3 linked regions of the Homo sapiens genome follow. The protein of the gene in region 2 interacts with the protein of the main gene of each other region in a biochemical or structural test. Each region holds a gene or a part of one and is shown on either strand. Other genes may lie near its edges. The genes, in order: A1CF, APOBEC1 and DND1.

Region 1 (7,703 bases), on a different chromosome or scaffold from region 2:
CTAATACAGAATGTCACCGCAAGAGTGCTGCTCCTTTTCCAGATGCTTTTCCTGGGGGCAGTTGGATTGTGAGAGCTGCACTTTGCAGGAGCCTGGTTACTGTTTCTGTGAATAAGATAAAATGGTGTTTATCCTCTGTCGATCAATACTGTCTTGTTTGAACTTATTGAGTCATTTTAGAGACACATAAGGTAATGAAAACCATTGTGCAATAGTACCCACAGTACTACTCAGCTTTCTAAGGGATGACAATTTTTAAAAGACAGTTACTGAAACAGATTTTTAACATCAACTGCCTCCATGATGAAATGAGCATGCACTGTGTCAGGGTGTCCCATGGGTTTGGGTGAAAAGGTGTTGGGGTTTTATAACTAAGAGTTTTCTTCAGCAATAATCTCTAAAATAAAAATATACTCTGTGTGTGTGCTTTAATACTAAAAAAATTTACAGACTGTCTTTCTCTGAATAAATGGAATAGTGCTACTATTTGTGATTAATCAAAATTTTTTATGTACAGTTTGTGATTTCAACTTTATTAGTATTGTTTTGAAAAACAAGGCCTAATAGGTATACTTGGGCAATTTTAGAAAATTTTTCTGGAGGTTGTTACAAATAGGAAAATGAAAAGGGAAGTGGGGTTTTTGCTGAATTCTTAAGTACCGGGGACCACATTTCTCTCCTTTGCTTTATCATCTAATTTAAACTTCACAAAATACTATGGGTCAGATCTTACCCCCATTTCACATTTGAGGAATCTGAGATTCAGTGGAGTCAAACAATATGCCCAAGGTCACAAACCTAGGGAGTTTTACAATAGGCGTTTCCACTTAGCTGTGTCGAGGCACAAAGCCTAGTGTTCTTTCCGTAATTAATTTTAAAAGTTTCTCAGATAGGCATAGTCCTATTTGGTGGAAGACTAGACTCTAAAGTCCTTTAGATTTTTCAACTGTGATTATTTCAATGGATTCTGATTGTTCTGAATGCTGGACATGGGCTATAAAAGCGATTTGGTCTTTCTTGTTCTGTATTCTGAGAAATGCCAATTTTGAGAGATATTGATAGATGTTCCTGAAAGAAGATGTTCTGTTGTAAATTAAGCCCAGGAAACAAAACGTTGCCTACTCTCTTAGATAGTTGTGATAAATGACAATATTTGCATGTGTCATGAGTCCCCAGTGCTCGAGCGTATGATATAATGGTTACGTGCTTGGGCTCTGGATCAGACTACCAGACAAAGGAGCCTGGCTCTGCCACTTGCTAACTGAGTAGCTGAGCCTGTTAGGTAATTTGTCTGTGCCTCCATTTTCCCATTTATAAACTGTTATAATAGTATCACACCATAGAGTTGTTCCAAGAATAACATGAGATAATGCATGGAGAGAACTTAGAAGTAGACCCGATAATATAGTGCTTCACAGATGCTTGTTATCATTATTACTCAAAACACTCATGTGGTAACAAAACCTGCTATAACTTTTCTAACACTGTTTCCTCAACTTACTTGACAATGGAGTTGCTTTTCTTTTGAGCCACATTTATTAACATCCACTGAATATAGTGTAGGAAATGTTGATATTTGAAATGACATAAAACCACCTTGGCATTAGTGCAGTAGAAAATAAGAACAAAGTATTTATAGTGTTTTAATATCCATTATGTCATTTTATAATGTTTGCCCACAACAATATTTCTTTTCCTTGCCAGCTGTCTTCTTTTTTCCCTTGAAATCGATAAATAGTAAAATAGAACAGTAAAATGTTAAGAGTTGTCTGAAATGGGCAGAGTCAATGTTATTCCAGAAAGTATGAACCTTATAAGTCATTTGTCTCTTTCTCTGTATTTAGCAGGGCAAAACCTTACTGCTTTGACAAATAAGTGATATCACTGTCATTTCCAGACCTGTGCTCCCATTGCATGCTCCATAGCACACGTTATAAAGAAAATTTCAGAGCAGACCAACACATTTTTTGATGCTCCTAAACTATAACTAGAGCTGAATTTGCCAAAATACGATCTATAAAACACTAATCCTGCACAATGTGCAAATAATGCTGTGTTCTTCATCTTCTTGGAGATATACAATACATATCTGAAAAGTCCTATAGTAAATAAAATTGTTTAGTTTGGAATCCTTTCTTCTTGGAATTTACATAGGTAATCATGACAAAAAGTCAGAGAGTTTAGGGGGTTTCTGGTAAAAATGGGATATTTTTGGTAAATGTCCAGATTGATTTCTTTCTTTAGCTAAAATACCATTATAATGTTTTTGGAGTACACAAAAAAAATATGTGAAAATATATCCACCTCAGCACAGTTGCCCAAATTGTGGAAACAATATAATAATTAGCCATTCCAAGGTTCAGATTTAACACACTGAAAACCAGTCATTTTCCATAATATTTTTTTGGTCAGAATCAAAAGTGAATAGTTTAAACATTCCTTTGGTTAGCAAGATAATGGCAGGCGGAATCGCAAGAGTTGTACCAAGACTTTCTTTTTTATGGTGGTAGTAGCTCTGGAGATAATTGAATATATGAAGTCTAAAGTATGATAGGAATTATGACCCACACACAGAACTCAAAATCTGCTGGTGATGTTAATACTATTTCTTTTGTTAATTATATTTTTGTTTCTCAGGGTCCTAGGATTGGGACAGGCACTCAACCACAACTCTCCCTGCTGTCTGGTTAGAGCTAAATAAACTTCTCACAACATTGGCTCCACTCTTGAACCCTCCGTGGTAAGTCTACAGAAATTTATTAAATCCTGGCAGCTATCTCATTTAGAGATTATATAATAATTCCAATATATTCTTTTGTTTTCTGGTTGTTTCATTAGTCTAAAAACAAGCTAGATAATTCTTTGAATTAGGCTCGATAACAGAAGAGGGTAAAAGCTGTTTTCACTGCATTCCCACTGATACCACAATACACAGTTTCACAGAGTTGAAATAGAAAAAAGCAAAACACATGGATCATACCTGAGTAATTTCAGAGATCCCCACCCGGAAAAGGTTTCCTTGATTATGGCGAATTCAACGTGTCACTCGGGTTATGCTCTAATCGTCATATCAAACTCCAAAGGTTCAGTGGCTTTAGGTTTGGTTTACAATTCCTGGGAGTTAAACTTTAACTCACCCTGTCTCTTGCATCCATGCAGCCCTTTGACCAGATAATTGGGTCACTACAGCCCAGATATAATCTACTAAAACTATCTTTGTTATTTGTTTATAAAATTAAAATAAATGTTGTAAAAATGTTGGGGTAAATATTATTTTGAAGATATTTTATTGGCTTATACGATATATTTAAAAAGTAAAAACTCACTGCAATTGGATACCTAAGCTTTCCTTTATGTTACTTCCTTTGTTTTTTACTATGTCAAAGTGATATTATAGCTAAGGTAATTTAGGAGAATATTTCTTTGTTTTACACTTTTTATATCACTATATTACATGGAGTAAAGTGTGGAGTTTTAGGTCAAGTACGTAGATAAATGCTGGCTTACAAACAGAAAATACACAAAGCATTTATATAACAAAGTAGATAGATTTAGGCCAGATCAGGTTGGGGAAAGCATACTTCTTTGTATACAAGCTGCTCATTTAGATTTTAAGAGGAGGCCACTGTGTGAGAAGCACAATAATCAGCTACATACTGGGGTTATATGATAGCTGATGCTATTGTTCATTGCCTGAAATCTCAGTGGTAACTGAGTTTCTTGAAAAATAGAGAAATGGTGCTTTCAGAAATACAAACATTATACTCTGAGTTCTCTGGTAAGAGCTGTAGTCTACAGAAGAAATCCCTAAGGGTAATAAAGCCCACATTTAAAAAAGGAAGAAGAACCAAAACCTTCCTAATTTTGAGTAAATTTTGGTTTAAGAGCTTGGAAACCACACATTCCAAAACTAGAATTAGAGGATACCCCTACTTGCCTTTAGTTCTAGTAAAAGGAGTCTAATTTTCTAGGAACCAACTATTAAGAGAGCATTTTTGTCTATAGAAAAGCACAAAACAAGCAATCCTTCTATAATATAGACGCAAAGGAAGATCCATCAATTAAGCACATCTATGAATATGTAAGAGAAGAGATAAAAGATACTGTTGGAATGCTAGTTCTGCTTACAGTTTTTAGTTCTCAAACATGGAATTATTTCAGTTCTCAAACATGAAATGATTTACCATTTTCCCATAGCAATGGATGATAGAGTTTAACAAAAACACCCCAGGAACAATTGTTTTACCCCAGAATTGCTCCCCTGATGTTAGACCTAGAGAAAGCATTTATGCCCCACCCAGCTAGATAGCTGAATGAGGGACACATCCCTCTACTTCCTTCTTGGGAAGGGATTCCCTCACAAAGTAGCCCTGATGGTTTCCTAGTGAAAGCTCAGTCTGGGGTTGCATGGTTCCCAATTGAGTGGGGAATTCTTTGAGTTTGCCCAGTCCAATAAAGAACTGTTGATGTTGTAAGATGGACAGTTTTGAGAGGGTTTCTTTTATTGTTTTTTGTGATAGGGGCTTAGATGGTGATAAGTGGAGATGAAGAAAGGAAAGCTAGGATTTTTAGGCATCTGATGGAAACACCAAAACACAACAGGTAAAAGGAACGATATTAACTAGAGTCTCAGTCCATTCAGGTTACTATAATAAAATACCATACAAGGCTGGGTGTGGTGGCTCATGCCTGTAATCCCAGCACTTTGGGAGGCTGAGGCAGGTGGATCACAAGGTAAGGAGATTGAGACCATCCTGTCCAACATGGCGAAACCCCATCCCTACTAAAATACAAAAAAATTAGCTGGGCATGGTGGTGCACACCTGTGGTCTCAGCTACTTGGGAGGCGGAGGCAGGGGAATCACTTGAACCCGGGAGGTGGAGTTCGCAGTGAGCCAAGATCATGCCACTGCACTCCAGCCTGGGCAACAGAGTGAGACTTCATCTAAAAACAAAACAAAAGAAAACAAAAAGAAAACCATACAGTGGGTAGCTTCAACAACAAACACTTGTTTCTCATCGTTCTGGAGGCTGGAAATCCAAAATCAGGGTGCCAGCAGGACCCTCTTTTTGGTTATGTCCTTACATGGCCTTCCTTGGTGCATGCATGCAGAAAGAGAGATCTCATGTCTTCTCCTTTTTAAAAATAAGGGCACCTATTTTTAAAATGAGGGACCTAGGTCCTGAGGGTCATGAGGGACCTAGCCTCATGACCTACTCTAACCATAATTACTTCCAAAAGGACCTATTTCCAAATACCATCACATTGGGGGTTAGGGTTTCAACATATTAATTTTAGGAGAAACACAAACATTCAGTCTATTGTAACCAGTTATTAAAAACATGTCAGTTGCTTATTTGATGGATCCTGGCATTCAACAGGGCAGGACTACAATCGCATTAACCCAAAATCTGATGATTTCCGTAGGACAATTCATATATTACTCCTAACAGCCAGTGGTAGTAATGAATTTGGTAGTAATGAATTATTAGGTTATTGCTTTCTATTTTTATTGCTTTTGTTTTTTAAACCATTTTGTTACAAGGATAGGAATACACTGATCAGGAATAAAAATAAAAACAATGGATCAGCCTTTCTTTTTCTGAGGGGTACTTAGAGAGAAAGTCTCTGGCCCTGGGACAGAGAAACCAATCCATCAGAATGAGATCAAATTTATGACCTTGATCTCATCAGTCTAATCAAGAGAGCTAACTGTACCCAGGATGGCAAGATTTGCCTTTACTTTGTAAAAATAAACCAGTTTAGATAGTGGCTGGTAAATGTGAATTTTCTATTACTTTATTCTACAAACAATTACTGAGAAACTTCTCTCTGCTAAGTGTTGCATTAGAAAGGTGATTACTTAAAATGAGATTTGAGTCTATTAGTAGGCTATAAAATCAATAAAGTGGGTTGTATCTAACATATTAAAATAGAACAGAAAATATCAAGTGAATTGCATCTAGAAAGGGTAATACTGGCCAGGCGCGGTGGCTCATGCCTGTAATCCCAGCACTTTGGGAGGCCGAGGCAGGCGGATCACCAGGTCAGGAGATCAAGACCATCCTGGCTAACACGGTGAAACCTTGTCTCTACTAAAAATACAAAAAATTAGCTGGGCGTGGTGGTGGGTGCCTGTAATCCCAGCTACTCGGGAGGCTGAGGCAGGAGAATGGCGCGAACCTGGGAGGCGGAGCTTGCAGTGAGCAGAGATCGGGCCACTGCACTCCAACCTGGGTGACAGAGCGAGACACTGTCTCAAAAAAAATACAAACAAAAAAACCAAAAAACAAAAAAGAAAGGGGTAATACTATTTATGAAACTTTTTTTCTAATTATGTATCTATCTGTGTGTATTGGTTATGAAGTAAACTTTATTTTTTATTGTGGATCACAATTTTAAGCGTTTGGAAAATACTGTGCTAGTCTTAAGGGATTCAGTGGTTAACAGACCAGATGGAAGGTACACACATTAAGCATATACCCCAATGATTAACTAATTATAGTTGTAATAAGTGTTATGAAGGAGAAGTACAGAATGCTAAACAGAACATAAAACATAGGGACCTAACCTTGTGTAGGGCTGGGTGGGTTGGGAGGTACTTGAGGAAAGCCTTCCAGAACACAAGACATTTAAGCTGAGACCTGAAGGATGTGTGGATGGGAGGTGGGCATTCTAGTGAGTGGAAATAGCTCATAGGGATGCCCTGAGTTCGCATGAGTTAGGCACATTCAAAAAACTGGTAGAAGGTCGGTTGTGAAGGGCAAGAGGGAAAATGATGGGGAAATTGACTGGAGTAGGTAGCCAAGTCAGACGATTCATAAAGGGCCATCACTAGATTCCCAGCATTATCCAGGGCCAATGGGAAGGAAGTCACGGAAGCATCTGAAGAAGGGGAGCCACTTGGACTATTTGTGTAGATTCTGGGTGTAGAGTGGAGAATAAATTGCCATGGGATAACACTGCCTGCTTCTCTCCTTTTTTTTTTTTTTTTTTTGTTGTCTTAGAATAATTTTACTCTTGTACATATTCAAGTAAGTTGGTGATTTGAACTTGAAGGAGGCAAAGCATCTAAAAGAGACCAGTAAGAGGGGAGGTGGCAGGTGATGGTAGTTAAGATTAGGGTGGTGGCTCTGGGAAAAGAGAAAAGTAGACAAGGTCCATGAAATGTGTAGGAGGTAAATCATCAAGAGGATATGGGAACTGAGCAGGGCATGACATCTAAAGGACAAGTCTCAAATTACTGAATGCAGCCATTGGCTGGATGGTGATACTATTTGCTGAAATGAGAATGCTCAAAAAAGAAGAGACTTACAAAAATAGGCTATACCAGGTCCATAGTAAGTACTCATTCGGTGGTTGCAATGATCAATCATTCATACATGAAATATTTGGCTTATGGATTTTAACGAATCTTGCTTTCACTATCAGAGTACATTTAGGTAAAAATCATTAATTTTTGCTGGTGAAGGCAAAACGTAAAGCTTAAAAAAAAAACAAAATATAACTAAAAGTCAAAGATTACCAAGAATAAGAAGCTTCCTTCCCTGCCACCATCCTCCCTGCCCTGGCTCAATAAAAATATCTCTTGCAGGTGGATCATGAGGTCAGGAGTTCGAGACCAGCCTGGCCAAGATAGCAAAACCCTGTCTCTACTAAAAATACAAAAATTAACCAGGCATGGTGGCTGGTGCCTGTAATC
Region 2 (7,577 bases):
AGTCAGCTTGGCTGGGTCGGAGTGATCAAGACCTGCAATGGAGGGAGATGAGCAATGGAGGGGGTAAGCCACAGGGCCTTACCAGCTCTGGATAGTATGCTAAGTGTAAGAAGCCATTAGAGAGTATGGGGATGATTCAAGGGAGAGTACTGAATTTTAGAGACCTGCGCCTCTCAGGACTCAGAGGCTTGGGGATGTTCCTGGCAATAAAATGGGCGCTGACAAGGCCTGAACCTCTAAGGGTGATTTGGGGAGATGCAGGCAAGAAATTCATCCCACGCTCCTGGCCAAACCTTAACTCGCAGGTGCTATTTTTGAACAGAGAAGAGTCACAGGCTCTGGAAGACACTTCCTTTAAAACAGAGCATGCTTTACCCTAGGCTGTGTGTGTACCTGTTTGTGTGTGTTACTTTTTATGCATTTGCACTGGATGGTAGAGGAGTTGTAGAAAGGACTTGGGCATGGCATGGTTTTTTTGCAGAGAGTGGTTCTAGCTGGGGAGAAGAACTAAAATGAGAAATTAGCCAGATATCTAGGAAATAGGACGAAGTCAGGAAACACTATTCCAAGTGTGACCTGAAGAACAAATCTCTTACTTTTAAAGGAGGAATGGGGGATTTGAGCATTGGGAGGAAGGAGGAAGGGGGTGGCTGGCACGTTGGAATGAGCTCTTCTCAGATCTTAGTGCAAATTGGGGCCCTTGAACCAGTAATCTACTCCGAGGGAGCCTTACATAAACAGAGGCCACATCATAGGAAAAAGGCATTTGATGATGGGAAGACACTTTCTCTGAAAGAGCTGAAGCAGCAGTGAGAAGTTCAGAAAGGGACGGTGAGACATATGCTGTGTCTACACTGATCAATATTATTCCTGGGATGCAAAGACAAGGATACCAGCCACATGACTGGGGACAGTTTGAGGTATAGAACACACCACCTTCATAAGAAAAGTCCAGGGAAGGTATTAGCTACTACAATCAAATAATGTGTTTGGTCTTTCCCCCAGTATGCCACTTAAAAAAGAATTTTTTTTTTTTTCCCGAGATGGAGTTTTGCTCTTGTTGCCCAGGCTGGAGTGCAATGGCGCGATCTCGGCTCACTGCAACCTCCGCCTCCCTGGTTCAAGTGATTCTCCTGCCTTGGCCTCCCAAGTAGCGGGATTACAGGCATGTGCTACCGTGCCCAGCTAATTTTGTATTTTTAATAGAGACGTTGTTTCTCCATGTTGGTCAGGCTGGTCTCAAACTCCCTACCTCAGGTGATCCGCCTGCCTTGACCTCCCAAAGTGCTGGGATTACAGGTGTGAGCCATCACACCTGACCTTAAAAAAGAATTCTAACAGATGAAGAACATAAAGGAGAAAATAAATTGTTACTTCAACTCCAAACTGATATCTATATTACCTTCTGCCCCATCACACTCACACTATTGCAATAGTCTTCTAACTGGTCTCCTTGCTTCCAGTCCAAAACCCATCACATGTCAAGTAAATGTGTCTAAAGCACTATTTTAGTCATATCTCTGTGCTATTCATAAATTCTCCAAAGATATTCCCTCTACCATAAAGAAAAACTTTCATTCCTTGAGCCTGGCATTCGAAGTCCTCTATAGTATAATAACACTTCAAATTTGCTTTCTGGTCTTACTGCAAATTGTTTACATAAATTTTTTGTAGCCTAACCAGTTTATTCATTATATTCCAGACACAAGTCTCTATAAAAGCTTTTAAATTCTGTTCATCAATAGGATTCAATCAACCTGGAATCTCCTCTTCTTTGTCGATCCAAAGTCTGCCCTTCTGGCCTGGCATGGTGGCTTACACCTGTAATCCCAGTACTTTGGGAGGCCGAGGCTAGTGGATCACTTGAGCCCAGGAGTTCAAGACCAGCCTGAGCAATAAAGCAAGACCTCATCTCTACAAAAAAATTAGCAGGGCTGGTGGCCCATGCCTGTTGTCCCAGCTACCCAGGAAGGTGAGGCGGGAGGATCTCTTGAGCCCAGGAGGTCAAGACAGCAGTGAGCAGTGATCACACCACTGTACTCCAGCCTAGGCAACAGGGCGAGTCTTAAAAAAAAAAAAAAAAAAATTTGGTTAGGCATGGTGGCTCATGCCTGTATTCCTAGTACTTTGAGAGACCAAGGGTGGAGAATTGCTTGAGCCCAGGAGTTCCAGACCAGCCTGGGCGAAGTAGTGAACCCACCCGCTAGTCTCTAAAAACAAAATAAGATAAAAATTTTTTTAGGTCTACACTTCTCTTAGAATCCAGCTCAAATCCTAGCTCAGCTGAAATTACTTCCTTCAGCCTGAAGTGTTCTTCCTCTCCCATGCATTTTTCTAACACTGACTGTGCACAAATTTATCAATTAGTTATAGTCAATTCATTTGTCAATTAGCACATTGTTCTCATGCTATCACGTCTGTTGTTACCTTAAACTGTTATTTAAACAGTTGTACTTTTACTTAACTTTTTTTTTATTTTTGTGAGACAGAGTCTTGCTCTGTTGCCCAGGCTGGAGTGCAGTGGCGTGATCTCAGGTCACTGCAACCTCCGCCTCCTGTGTTCAAGTGATCCTCCTGCCTCAGCCTCCCGAGTAGCTGGGACTACAGGCATGCGCCACCATGCCTGGCTAATTTTTGTATTTTTAGTACAGATAGGGTTTCACCATGTTGGCCAGGCTGGTCTCAAACCCTGGGCCTCAAGTGATCCACCCTCCTTGGACTCCCAAAGTGCTGGGATTACAGGTGTGAGCCACAGCGCCTGGCTACTTAATTTTTTATCATGGTGAAACAAACACTGATTTGGTTAAAGTCACTTGGAGATGTAAATATTTACTAATAATAAACCATCTTATTTAAGACTAATATATTAATCAATAATAGGGAAGTTTGAAAACACCCACAGATGCAAGAATCAGCAGGACACACACACACACACACACACACACACACACACACACACACACACACACACACCATTCTTGCATTGTTCAAGAATACTTGCCAAGCCCCCGGATCCATTTTACCTTTCTCAGAAGTCATGGTGCTCTGTCTCTGGACTTCCTCCTCTGGAGTCATAAGTTGTGCTGATTGTTCCTGGACTTTGTTGCTTCAGGTGTGCCCACTGCCACCTGCTTGGGCAGAGGATGACTCATTCCCGCATCTCAGGCAGTTATGGGAATCTGAGCTGTCTGTACAAACAGGGGGCCGACTGAGAGGGACATTATCGTGGGGATTTGCATCTTTAGTGATGAGAAAGCCTATGATGCAAATGACATGAATTTTGTAGGGTGGATCACTGGGTACCAAATTCCAAAGTTCTTCAATGACATCTGAATTTGGTAAACTTTCTCTTTCTTTAAATAAAGATTAAGGCAAGGTGGATCCATCATTCTTTTTTGTTTTGTTTTGTTTTATTTATTTATTTTTCATTATCTCCTACTCTGCATCAAGGATGCATCATTCTTTTTTTTTTTCTTTGAGACGGAGTTTTGCTCTTGTCGCCCAGGCTGGAGTGCAATGGCACAATCTTGGCTCACTGCAACCTCTGCCTCCCAGGTTCAAGCGATTCCCCTGCCTCAGCCTCCCGAGTAGCTGGGATTACAGGCGCCCAACACCACGCCCGGCTAATTTTTTGTATTTTTAGTAGAGACGGGGTTTCACCATGTTGGTCAGGCTGTTTTTGAACTCTTGACCTCAGGTGATCCACCCGCCTCGTCCTCCCAAAGTGCTGGGATTACAGGCATGAGCCACCGTGCCTAGCCTAGGATGCATCATTCTTTAATGGAGAGATGAGAGGAAAAATAAAGTTAAGAGAGACTTAATCTGTAACTATAGCTTGAAAATTTTTATGTTATCTGGTGAGCACACTGTGGCCTTGGCTTTCAGCTGTTATTCACCTATTTCCAACTTCCTCTCATTTTGCTCTCTGTCCTACATCCGTGTTGGAGAGGGGAGGGGAGCTATTAGATACAAAATGAGAAGGACCTTGGCCTCTGAGTCAGCTAATTTGTGTACAGGTCTTTGGTGCTCTCTTCATCCTTGAATCTAAGATTAAGTGTGTGGCCAAGTCCACTTCTGCCCTTTTTTTTTTTTTTTGAGACAGAGTTTCGCTCTTGTCACCCAGGCTGAAGTGCAATGGCGCGATCTCGGCTCACTGCAACCTCTGCCTCCCAGGTTCAAGTGATTCTCCTGCCTCAGCCTCCCAAGTAGCAGGGATTACAGGCACCCACCACCACACCAGGCTAATTTTTATATTTTTAGTAGAGACAGGGTTTCTCCATGTTGGCCAGGCTGGTCTCAAACTCCTGACCTCAGGTGATCCACCCGCCTCAGCTTCCCAAAATGCTAGGATTACAGGCGTGAGCCACCTCTCCCAGCCACTTCTGCTTTTTTATCCCCCTTGAAAAAGTAAATGCCATACTTCCCTATGCCATTGCTCTCTGTTGCCTGAACCCTGGGTCAAGTTCAAGCCAAAAATTCCTCTGAGTCTCAGCACTTACTCCTAGAATTGAGGTCACTTTTTCAAGGCCTAAGTCTCCCTCTAGTGTCTCAAATCTAGAACTCCTGAACTTTGAATCTCAAGGCCCCATGAACCTGAAACCCGAATCCTACATACAAGACTTTACTTAGTTATGAAAGTCAACCTGGAGCCTCCATGAGATAAAGCAGGTGTTTCGACAGGGGCAGACCAGTGTTTTGAAGAAGGGGCAGAAATCCCACATCATCAATAAAGGCCCTTCAGAGACCAAGTTTTTCTAAGTTAGGTAAGAGTAGAATCATTGTAGAATAAAAGTAGGTTAGGCCAGGCGCAGTGGCTCGCGCCTGTAATCCCAGCACTATGAGAGGCAGAGATGGGAGGATCACCTGAGGTCAGGAGTTCAAGACCACCCTGGCCAACATGGCAAAACCCAGTCTCCTAAAAATATAAAAGTCAGCTGGGTGTGGTGGCAGGTGACTGTAATCCCAGCTTCTCGGAAGGCTGAGGCATGAGAATTGCTCGAACCCAGGAGGGAAGTTTGCAGTTAGCCGAGATCTCACCATTGCACTGCAGCCTGGGCAACAGAGTGAGACTACGTCTAAAAAAAAAAAGAAAAAAAAAAAAAGGTAAGATAATAGCCATCAACGATATCCATGTCCTGATCCCTGGAATCTGTTAAACATATGAACTTAAGTGCCAAAAGGGTCTTTGTCGTTAATTAAAAATCTTGAGATGAGAAGACAATCCTGGATTATGCAGGTGGGCACAGTCTAATCACAGGGTCCTTATAAGAGGGAGGTAGAAGAGTCAGAGTCAGGATGCGAAATGGAGATATGAGGATGAGAGCAGAATTCTGCTTGCTGGCTCAAAGGGAGCCACGATTCAAGGAATGAGGAAAGCCTGTAGAAGCTGGAAAAGGCAAGGAATGGATTCTCCCCCAGAGCCTCCAGAAGAAATGCTACCCTGATGACACCTTGATGTCAGCTTAGTGAGACCTGTTTTGTACTTCAGACCTCCAGAACTATAAAACAATGTGTGTCGTTTTATACCATTAAGTCTGTGGCAATTTCATGAAGCGGCAATAGGAAACTGATATGGTAGGACATGCTCCCAGGAAGTAAACATGCAGCAGCCAAGAGGGTGCAAAACTTGGGTTTGTTTTCTACTAGAATGCCTATTGAGCGCTTCGTCCATGTTCTGTTTTGTTTAAGAAAACTTGGAACTATGACATATGACAGACTATCATGTGGTTAATTATTTGTAAGTGAGGTCAAAGATAATCAAGGATGAAATGTAGCTATTCAGTTTAAGTCTGTCCTGCACCTGAAAATTTATGAATTTTGAAAAATGTATACATACACTTATGTAACTACTCCAGTCAAGATATTTAAAATTCCCATCACCCCAAAAGTTCTTTTGTTTTTTTGTTTTTTTTTAAGACAGGGTCTTCCTCTATCGCCCAGGCTGGAGTGCAGTGGCTTGACCTTGGCTCACTGTAGCCTCAGCCCCCCGGGTTCAAGCCATTCTCATGTCTCAGCCTTGCAAGAAGTAGCTGGGATTACAGAGATGCACTACCATGCCCAGCTAATTTTTGTACTTTTAGTAGAGATGAGGTTTCACCGTGTTGGCCAGGCTGGTCTCGAACTCCTGACCTCAAGTGATCCACCCACCTTGGCCTCCCAAAGTGCTGGGATTACAGGTGTGAGCCACCATGCCTGGCCAGCACCCCCCAATTCTGTGTGTTAGCAGCTATCCTCCTACTCCTAGTCCCAGGCAAATACTGCTCTTTCTGTCTCTATAGTTTAGTTTTGACTATTATAGAACTTCATACAAATGGAATCATGCATTGTGCACACTTTTGTGTGTTCTTTTGCTCAGCTTTTCCTTTTTTTTTTTTTGAGACAGGGTCTCACTATACAACTTTTTGTATTTTTAGTAGAGACGGGGTTTCACCATGTTGGCCAGGCTGTTCTTCAGCTTTTCTGTAAAATCGGTCTACATGATTAGGTGTATTGGTGGTTAATTTTCATTGCTGAATAGTATTCCATTGCATAGGTATGCTACGATTTGTATATTCTTCTGTCGATGTGATGTACTTTGGGTTATTTCCAATTTTAGGCTTTCATGAATAAAGCTGCTGTGAACATTTGTATACAATTCTTTGTGTAAACATGTCTCTTTTTCTTCCTCTTGGGTAAATACCCAAGAGTGAAATTGCTGGATCAAATAGGTAAATGCACATTTAACTCTTTTTTAAAAAATTGATTTTATTTTTTATAGGGACAGGGTCTCACTATATTGCCCAAGTTGGTCTTGAACTCCTGGGTTTGAGAAATCCTCCTGCCTTGGCCTCCCCAAAGTTCTGGGATTACAGGTGTGAGCCACTACACCCAGCTACATTTAACTGAAGAAAATGCCAAATTGTTGTTACCAGTTTACATTTTCATCAGGTGTATAAGAGAGCCCCAATTGTTATACAACCTCATCAGTACTTAGTAATGTCAGCCCTGTTAGTTACAATCATACTTGTGAGTGTGTGGTAGTATCTCATTGTGATTTTAATTTGCATTAAAATTAAATGCAATGAACATCTTTTCATGTACTTATTAGTTATTTATATATCTTTTTTCTGAAACTTGTTCAAATTTTTTGTCTTCCCTCCCTACCTCGCCCACCTCCCACCCACCCTGGAGACAAAATTTTGCTCTTGTTGCCCAGGTTGGAGTACAATGGCCCCATCTTGGCTCACTGCAACCTCCTCCTCCCGGGTTCAGGTGATTCTCTTGTCACAGTCTCCCGAGTAGCTGGGATTACAGGCGTGTGCCACCATGCCTGGCTGATTTTTGCATTTTTAGTAGAGATGGGGTTTCATCATGTTGGTCAGGCTGGTCTCAAACTCCTGACCTCAGGTGATCCACCTGCCCCAGCCTCCCAAAGTGCTGGGATTACCAGGTGTGAGCCACCACACCTGGCCTTGTCCATTTTTTAATTGGGTTCTTTGTCTCATTACTGAGTTGTAAGAGTTTTTTACGTATTGTGGATACAAGCTTTGTCATATCTGTATACAAATGCTCCTCAGTTTACAATGAAGTCATGTCTC
Region 3 (6,952 bases), on a different chromosome or scaffold from region 2:
CACCATGCCAGGCTAATTTTTGTATTTTCAGTAGAGACGGGGTTTCTCCATGCTGGCCAGGCTGGTCTCGAACTCCTGACCTCAGGTGATCCACCCGCCTCAGCCTCCCAAAGTGCTGGGATTACAGGCAAAAGCCAACACACCCGGCCTGGATATGAATTTATAATACCCTACAGTGCAACACAAGAAGATGCACTCAAAGCACTGATGTGAGGAAGTACTTGCCCCGTAGCAGCTATTCACTCTACCAGTGTAAACAAACTCTAAGCTAGGGCAAGACAGCACAGACACAAGTATATACTAACCAGGGGTTTAATATAAATACAACCAGCATAGAAAGACCCAAAACTATACAGAAACCAAAACCAGAATGCCATGTGGTGGAGGCAAAGGGCAGAATTTCTGACCCCTTTGGCTCAGCTGCCCTTCCCCACAAATAAAAACCAACAAAGAGGACAAATCAGGACAATAAAGAAGATTCATGCTAAGCTGTGGCAGAGGGGGGAAGGTATGATCGGGTGGGGGTGGGACAAGGAACGGCCATGGAAGATCACTGGGTCAGGTTGGACCCTGGGCTGGGAGCGGGAGGGCAAGGCCCCTCACCACAACTTAACCCAAACCTAAGCTGCCCCCAGGTGCCATAGGTCCCTGTCCCAGCAGGGAGGCTGATGGGCCTGGGCCCATGCCCCTCCCCACCTTTGGGGGTCAGAAAGTGGCCACCCAGGCCTGCTGGGATGGGGCCTGACACAGGCTCTGCATGCCCATTCAGGGTGCCTGTGGAGAAAGAATGGAGTCACTGTTTAACCATGGTACCTGCCTCAGCCCCAGCAGACCACAGGAGGTTGGCCCCAGACTCACTGAGTGCCTGCAGCAGCCGTACAGACACAGCATCCTTGGCCACCTCATGCCCATCCCGGCCATCTAGGGTCAGCACAACCCAGATGAGGCCGCTGAAGGGCACCGGATGCCCAGGAATCACCACCTGGTACCAGAAGCGGTGCCAGCCAGCAGGTCCTATGCCCAAACACTTGGTGAGGAACACAGGGCTGCCCAGCTTCATTCGTTGGCACAGCAACTGCAGGGTAGCCCGAGCCCCTTGGAACCCTAACTTGTCCCTTGCCAAAGCCAACTGGCTGCCCTCTGGCTGTGGGGACCGCAAGAAGGGACCCACAAGCTGCTGGCGAAGTCGCTGCTTCAGGTCTGGCTTGAGCCACTCCACAGCCACCTGCTCTCCACAGAGGTGTGACTGCCCTGTAGGAAAAATGCAAAGACAAGGGCAGGTCTAAACCCTGGGCCCAAGCCTCCAGGTGGTGAGCCCTTTGGAGCTACACAGTCCTGTTATTTGTAGCCTTCCCATTTCCTGGTAGTGTGACCATGGGTAAGAAAAGACAATGAAGCCTTCAGCCTCCATTATTTGCAAAGGGAGTATAACACACTGCTACCTTACAAGTTTCCTTGGAGAAGTACTGGTTAATTGCAGGCTTTGTCTGCCTCATAACCATCATAATGGCTAATCTTTACTGGGAAAACTTGCTGTAAGTCAGTCAGTGTGCTAAGTACCGTACACCCATTATGTTACTTAATTCTCATAACAGTCTGAGGAAACAGATTCTATAGTAGTAAAAAGCTCAGTTGGATTCCCTTGAGCAAATCAATTTCTCTAACAGTTTCCTCATAGCTTGAGGGTCCTGTGCCTATTTTGCGGTGTGGGGGTGGGGGAAGGTTGAGAATTAAGTCAGGAGGTAATGCTCGGGAAGTGTCACAAATTTAGGTAAGCGGTGGTGGTAGCACCATTGGAAGTTTTAAAAATCTGAGATCAAATAGTAAAAGGTTGCAAATTCTGGCATGTTTGACTCTAAGATCTTGTAACTTTAACAGCTATGCTCAGTATAAAGTGCCGGGCAGAACGCGTTTGGCCCCAACCAGCACCCCCGCCCCAGCCTACCTTCCACCAGGGCCTTTTTGGCCATGGCAGCGGCCCGGTGCGAGCTGAATTTGAGCAGAGCGATCTGCCCGGGCGCCGGTCCGGGGCTGGGCAGCAGCCGCGCCTCCTGCAAGCCGGGACCCAGCGGCTGCAGCGCGAGCAGCAGCGCGCTGCGGGTCAGATTCGGCGGCAGGCCGTCAACGCTCAGCTCACACTTCTCGGTGCTGCGGCACACGAGCAGCGGGCAGGACGGCCGCAGCGGATGGTTGTGCAGCGTGGCGATGGCGGCCTGCGCGCCGCGCCTCGAGCTGTAGCGGGCATAGGCGAAGCCGCGGTTCAGGCCGCTGAAGGTCATCATCAGGCGGAACTCGTAGAGGCGGCCCACGCGCTGGAACAGCGGGATAAGCTGGTGCTCGTACACGTCCTGAGGCAGCCGCCCGATGAACACCTCTGACCCAGCTGGCGGCGGGCTGCCCACCCAGCCTGTGGGAAGAGGGTATGCAAGGCCACCGTCAGGCGACGCTTTCGAATTCTGAGCCCACGGACCCAGCGCGCGGGGGTGGGAGGCGATGTGAACAAAGGTCTGTGAAATGGGTTTACACCCGTACCCTGGGTGGTTGGCATAATTAGGTGACTGCGCTAACAAGGGGGCTGGCACAGAGTAGGTACACCTTGAGATTGGCCCCCTCCCTCGACGGGGCGGGTGGACGTGGAGCCACAGTTCCTCCTTTGCTGGGGGGTATAAATCCGGGTAGTTCGCAGTTTCTGACAGTGAAGGCTCGGAGCAGCCCCTCCCCCAAAGGGGGCTGGTGTAGCCGGACAGGCGGAGGGGCTGGGACTACCGTACCTGGGGGTGGCCCGCCATACTTCCTCTGCCCGTTCACCTGCACCAGGCGGATGCCTGTCTCCCTGACCCACGCCTCCAGCGCCGCCTTGTTCTCTGGATTCACCCTCTCACACCACAGCTGAGAGGGAAAGGAAGGTTGGAATGGCGGATCGCCAAGCGCGCCCCCACCTCTCCTGTGGTACTGGGGTCCCTAAAGCCGACCCCCGCTCCGGCGGGGCTCGCCGGCCCCCAAGTCGCCAGCCGCTTACCTCACAATCCCGCTTGGACTGCATGGCTCTCCAGCTGGCCCCCTCGTACCCTCTTTATAACTTCCTCCCCACCGGCCTCTGGAAGCTTCCCTACCCCTCCACCCCGCAAGCTCTCATTGGCTCTGAGCGCGACCCCGCCTCCCAGGGGGGTGGAGGTATCCACTGCACGTGCGCCGCCCGGGCTTCGCTCAGACCTTCAGGTGAAAGCTGCAAAGTCGCGGGTGCGTATGTACGGGGGCTGCCTCCCGAGGAGGAGCTCCCAAGCCGCAGGGTGGACGCTGGAGACAAGAACCTCAGGGTCACAAGTTTACTGTTTTTCTCCCTTTTCCATCCCTACATTGGTCTGCTGGGGAAGGCGGGGCTAGGCATCACTGACACACGCAGACTCCGTGGTTGAGGCATTTTATTGGACCTTTGGCAATTGGTGGTGGGGAGGCATCTGCTCCAACTGGTGCGGGGCCCTGCAGATGGGACCATCTCAGGCTGGGTCCTTGTAGCCCAGGAGCACAGACTGGACTAAGCCTCCTGGGCCTTGTATGAAAAAGGTGTTGTACCTGGCCGTTTTTGCCAGTAATAATCAATAAAATAACCATAATAAAAATCAAAGGCTCTGTTCTGACCACTCTTCAGGTCTTCCGCTGAAACGGAAAAGTGCAAAGCAATTGAAGTACATATGCAGTTTGTCTTAACCTCAAATAGTGCCAGTCCCACTTCCTTTCCTCTGATAGTTTGTTCAGTTCAGCAGATGCAGAGGGGCTGGCCTGTTCTCCTTTTGATTTCCTCCACAAGGTCTTCTCTTCGGACATCCACCTGGCCAGGATGGGAGAAGAAGGTGGTATAAGCATCTTCCATTCCACTGCTCCCCGAGTGCCTAGTTTCCTCTAGCCCTCTAGGCATCAGGCTTGTCTCAGCTGGGAGCAGGAACCTAATTAAACACCTCAGGCTAGAGTGTGCCTCTTGGGGGAGCCAACAAACCATAAGGTATATGCAGGGATGGAGATCTCACCCTACTAAGACCACAGTAACAGGTTAAGCCCTCAAGGCTTTTATGAGTTGTACTAATATCAATGCCAGGCTTTTTCTCAGGTCTTGAATGGGCATGGGCCTGCCAAAATGGCATACATTCTCTGTCCCTTAGCCTTCCTGCCCACCTCCCTCACCTCTTCCCTGCTCGTCACTGAACGGAGCTTGATGACCCCATCCTTGAGTTCCTGCTCGCCGATGATAGCCACCAGTGGGATGCCTGCCTCCTCACAGTACTGTAACTGGTTCAGTAGCTTTGGGTTCTTCTTGTACAGCAGCTCAGCCTGCAGGGGACAAGAGCAGAAGATGAAGGCTGGCTTCTGCTGTCCTCAGGGACAGAGGGTGTCCAAGCTGGCACCCTGTTCTTAGCTCTACTTTTGAGAAGTAATGGCAGGATCCATTATGGGTGAGCTTTTATTCAGTTTGTGTCCAGCACACCTAAGTTTGCTGCCACCCTGGGGCTTGCCTCCCATACCTTGATCCCAGCATCCCACAGTTCTGAGACAAGCTTTAGTCTTTCCTCTAGCAGCTTCTTCTGTGCAGATGCCACAAGCACCTGTGTCTCCGTGGTCCGTATCTTCTCCTCCAAAGCCTGGGGAAGGGGCAGATAAAAGAGAGCTGGGCTAACACCTTCAAGGAGCAAACAAAGCAGGCTCTAGTCGGGATTTTGAGACCAGGCCCAACTCAGCTCTACCAGGGCAGGGGCCCTGTCTTCTCATCTAGCACCTTGGGCATAAAGGTAGCTTTTAGTAGATATGAGGACTGAACTGACTGACTTGTACATAGGACGTATCAGAATAAATAACTTAGGGCAAGAGTAAAGGTAGCTTTTTTACAGTAACTTCAAGCTTATCTCCATGTAGTACCTTTTTTTTTTTTTTGAGACAGGGTCTCTGTCATCCAGGCTGAAGTGCCGTGGTGTGATCACTGCAGCTTCGACCTCCCAAGCTCAAGTGATCCTCCCACCTCAGCCTCCTGACTACAGGCACACACCACCATACTCAGCTAATTTAAAAAAAAAAAAAAATTTTTTTTTTTAATCTGTAGAGACAGGGTCTCATCATGTTGCCCAGGCTGGTCCATGTAGTACCTTAAGGGTCCACCAAAGCATTCACACAGAAGTACTACTATGAGCCCACCCCAATTAGATCACCCTTGACAGTTTTAGTCCCCACTTACTATCTACCCATTTATGACACTGTGCCTCTCACACTTCAGTTACAGGGCACAGGCGTGTATATGGGTGTGGGGAAAGGAGAATGCTGCTGCTGCTTCCCTTGTCTTTTTCAGGAAAACTATTTTCATAGTTCTTAGAATGTAAGATGCCTACTGGAAAAATGATCTCAACTGGGAAATGGGTGGTTTCCACCCTAGAGAAAAGGCATAGGACTGTGGGGAGGTTGCCAGAGCATTTCCCAGAAGATGAAATGCAACCAGCCACTTAAGACCAGCAGCAACAAAGGAGGGCTTGAGGCTACAAGAGGCTTCCTTGGTGTTACTCTAGGTGCTAGAGAGTCACGGTAGCCATCTGAGGGATCCCAGGGCCTCAGACACATGCTTCCCATTTAGAGACAGTATTGCAGTGTGGTTAGTGGCAAGACTTTGGAGTCAGACTGCCTGGATTCAAATTCTGACCCTACCACTTACAAGTTTCATGGCCTTAAGCAAATTATTTGATCTATAATGCTTCAGTGTTCTCATCTGGAAAATGCAATTAATAAAATTAGCTACTCTCACAGGGCTGTAGTAACAATTATATTTTGATAATGCATGAAAAGCACCAAGCACAGTGCCTGGCACAAGGCAGTAAAATGTTAAGTATTCCGTATCATGAGGAAGATCTAAGTCTTGGATACACCAGCCCAGGTTTGTGACAGCCCTGAAGGAAGTAGAGACCCAGAGCAGAGGATTGAGTGCAGAAAGATTATGGATTAAAGATCCATAAAACTTACATATAATGGGGTAGAAATCTGTGAAAAAGAGCAATAATCTTTTCTCCATTTCTGTGAGATGCTCCCTGCCCAAAGCAGCACCACTTGCTCCCTTGGAGATCAGATAGCTTAGGTGCCACCACCTGCTCAGACTATCTTCTACCTACCTCCTAGGACCTACCTCTAGTCTCTGTTCCACGATGGAGAAAATCCGCTCCACCCCAATGCTGAGCCCCACACATGGCACCTTGCGCCCTTTGGGGTCGAACATGCCCACTAGCCCATCATAGCGTCCTCCAGCAGCCACACTGCCCACACCCAGGGGCTCTTCCCCTGCCTGGGCTGGGGTCTGTAGCAGCACTGCCTCATAGATCACCCCAGTGTAGTAATCCAGCCCTCGAGCAAGGCTCAGGTCAAAGGAGATCTGTGGAGATAAGAAAATGGTCAGTGCCAGATTAAGATCAGGGACCTGAAGCCCCAGAGCTCAGAAGGGATCCCGTCCCCAACTTGACTCACTTTGTCATCAATGCCAAATAGGGTCAGGTACTCAAAGAGCAACTTCAGGTCTCCCAGGCCCTCCAAGGCCTGCTTGTTTTGGGATAGTTTAGGATCCTGGAGCAGCTGTTCCACCAGGGATACCCCACCTGGGGAGACAGACTTGTGAGTGAGGCTGACAAGGAAACAAAAAAGGTAAGGAGGGTTGACCTTCTTGCCTGGACTCTAGTCGCCCATGCATGTGTGTGTACATATGCATAGACACACTCACTCCCCTACATACATAACACAGAACAGTTTCAACTTTAGGACTGAGGGCAGTGGGACGGCTGCTGGGGAGGCTTGGTTCTGTTCCTCACCATGTTGCTGGACATAGTCCCCAATGCGGTCAGCCACCTCAGGTGCAAGGCCCTTCTCTCCCACCATCTCATTCTTCACCTCTTCCCAGGACACCTAGGCAGACAGACACCAGTCAGGGACCCCT

What was found.
Region 1: the proteins of APOBEC1 (region 2) and A1CF form a complex in vitro, tested with the Homo sapiens proteins (one study listed by BioGRID).
Region 3: the proteins of APOBEC1 (region 2) and DND1 form a complex in vitro, tested with the Homo sapiens proteins (one study listed by BioGRID).

The regions. Positions count from the first base shown.
Region 1 is NC_000010.11:50,882,601-50,890,303, forward strand, and holds the start of A1CF (APOBEC1 complementation factor), read right to left. Parts: upstream 3,028-7,703; 5' UTR 2,981-3,027; intron 1-2,980. UniProt on the Homo sapiens protein: Essential component of the apolipoprotein B mRNA editing enzyme complex which is responsible for the postranscriptional editing of a CAA codon for Gln to a UAA codon for stop in APOB mRNA.
Region 2 is NC_000012.12:7,662,834-7,670,410, forward strand, and holds the start of APOBEC1 (C->U-editing enzyme APOBEC-1), read right to left. Parts: upstream 3,076-7,577; 5' UTR 3,040-3,075; coding exon 3,024-3,039; intron 1-3,023. UniProt on the Homo sapiens protein: Cytidine deaminase catalyzing the cytidine to uridine postranscriptional editing of a variety of mRNAs. Form complexes with cofactors that confer differential editing activity and selectivity.
Region 3 is NC_000005.10:140,670,500-140,677,451, forward strand, and holds DND1 (dead end protein homolog 1), read right to left. Parts: upstream 3,078-6,952; 5' UTR 3,044-3,077; coding exon 3,020-3,043; intron 2,890-3,019; coding exon 2,772-2,889; intron 2,408-2,771; coding exon 1,946-2,407; intron 1,847-1,945; exon of another isoform or gene 1,252-1,846; coding exon 794-1,251; 3' UTR 295-793; downstream 1-294. Other genes in the region: HARS1 (histidine--tRNA ligase, cytoplasmic), read right to left, coding at 3,758-3,829, 4,180-4,326, 4,518-4,634, 6,155-6,397, 6,490-6,617, 6,828-6,921.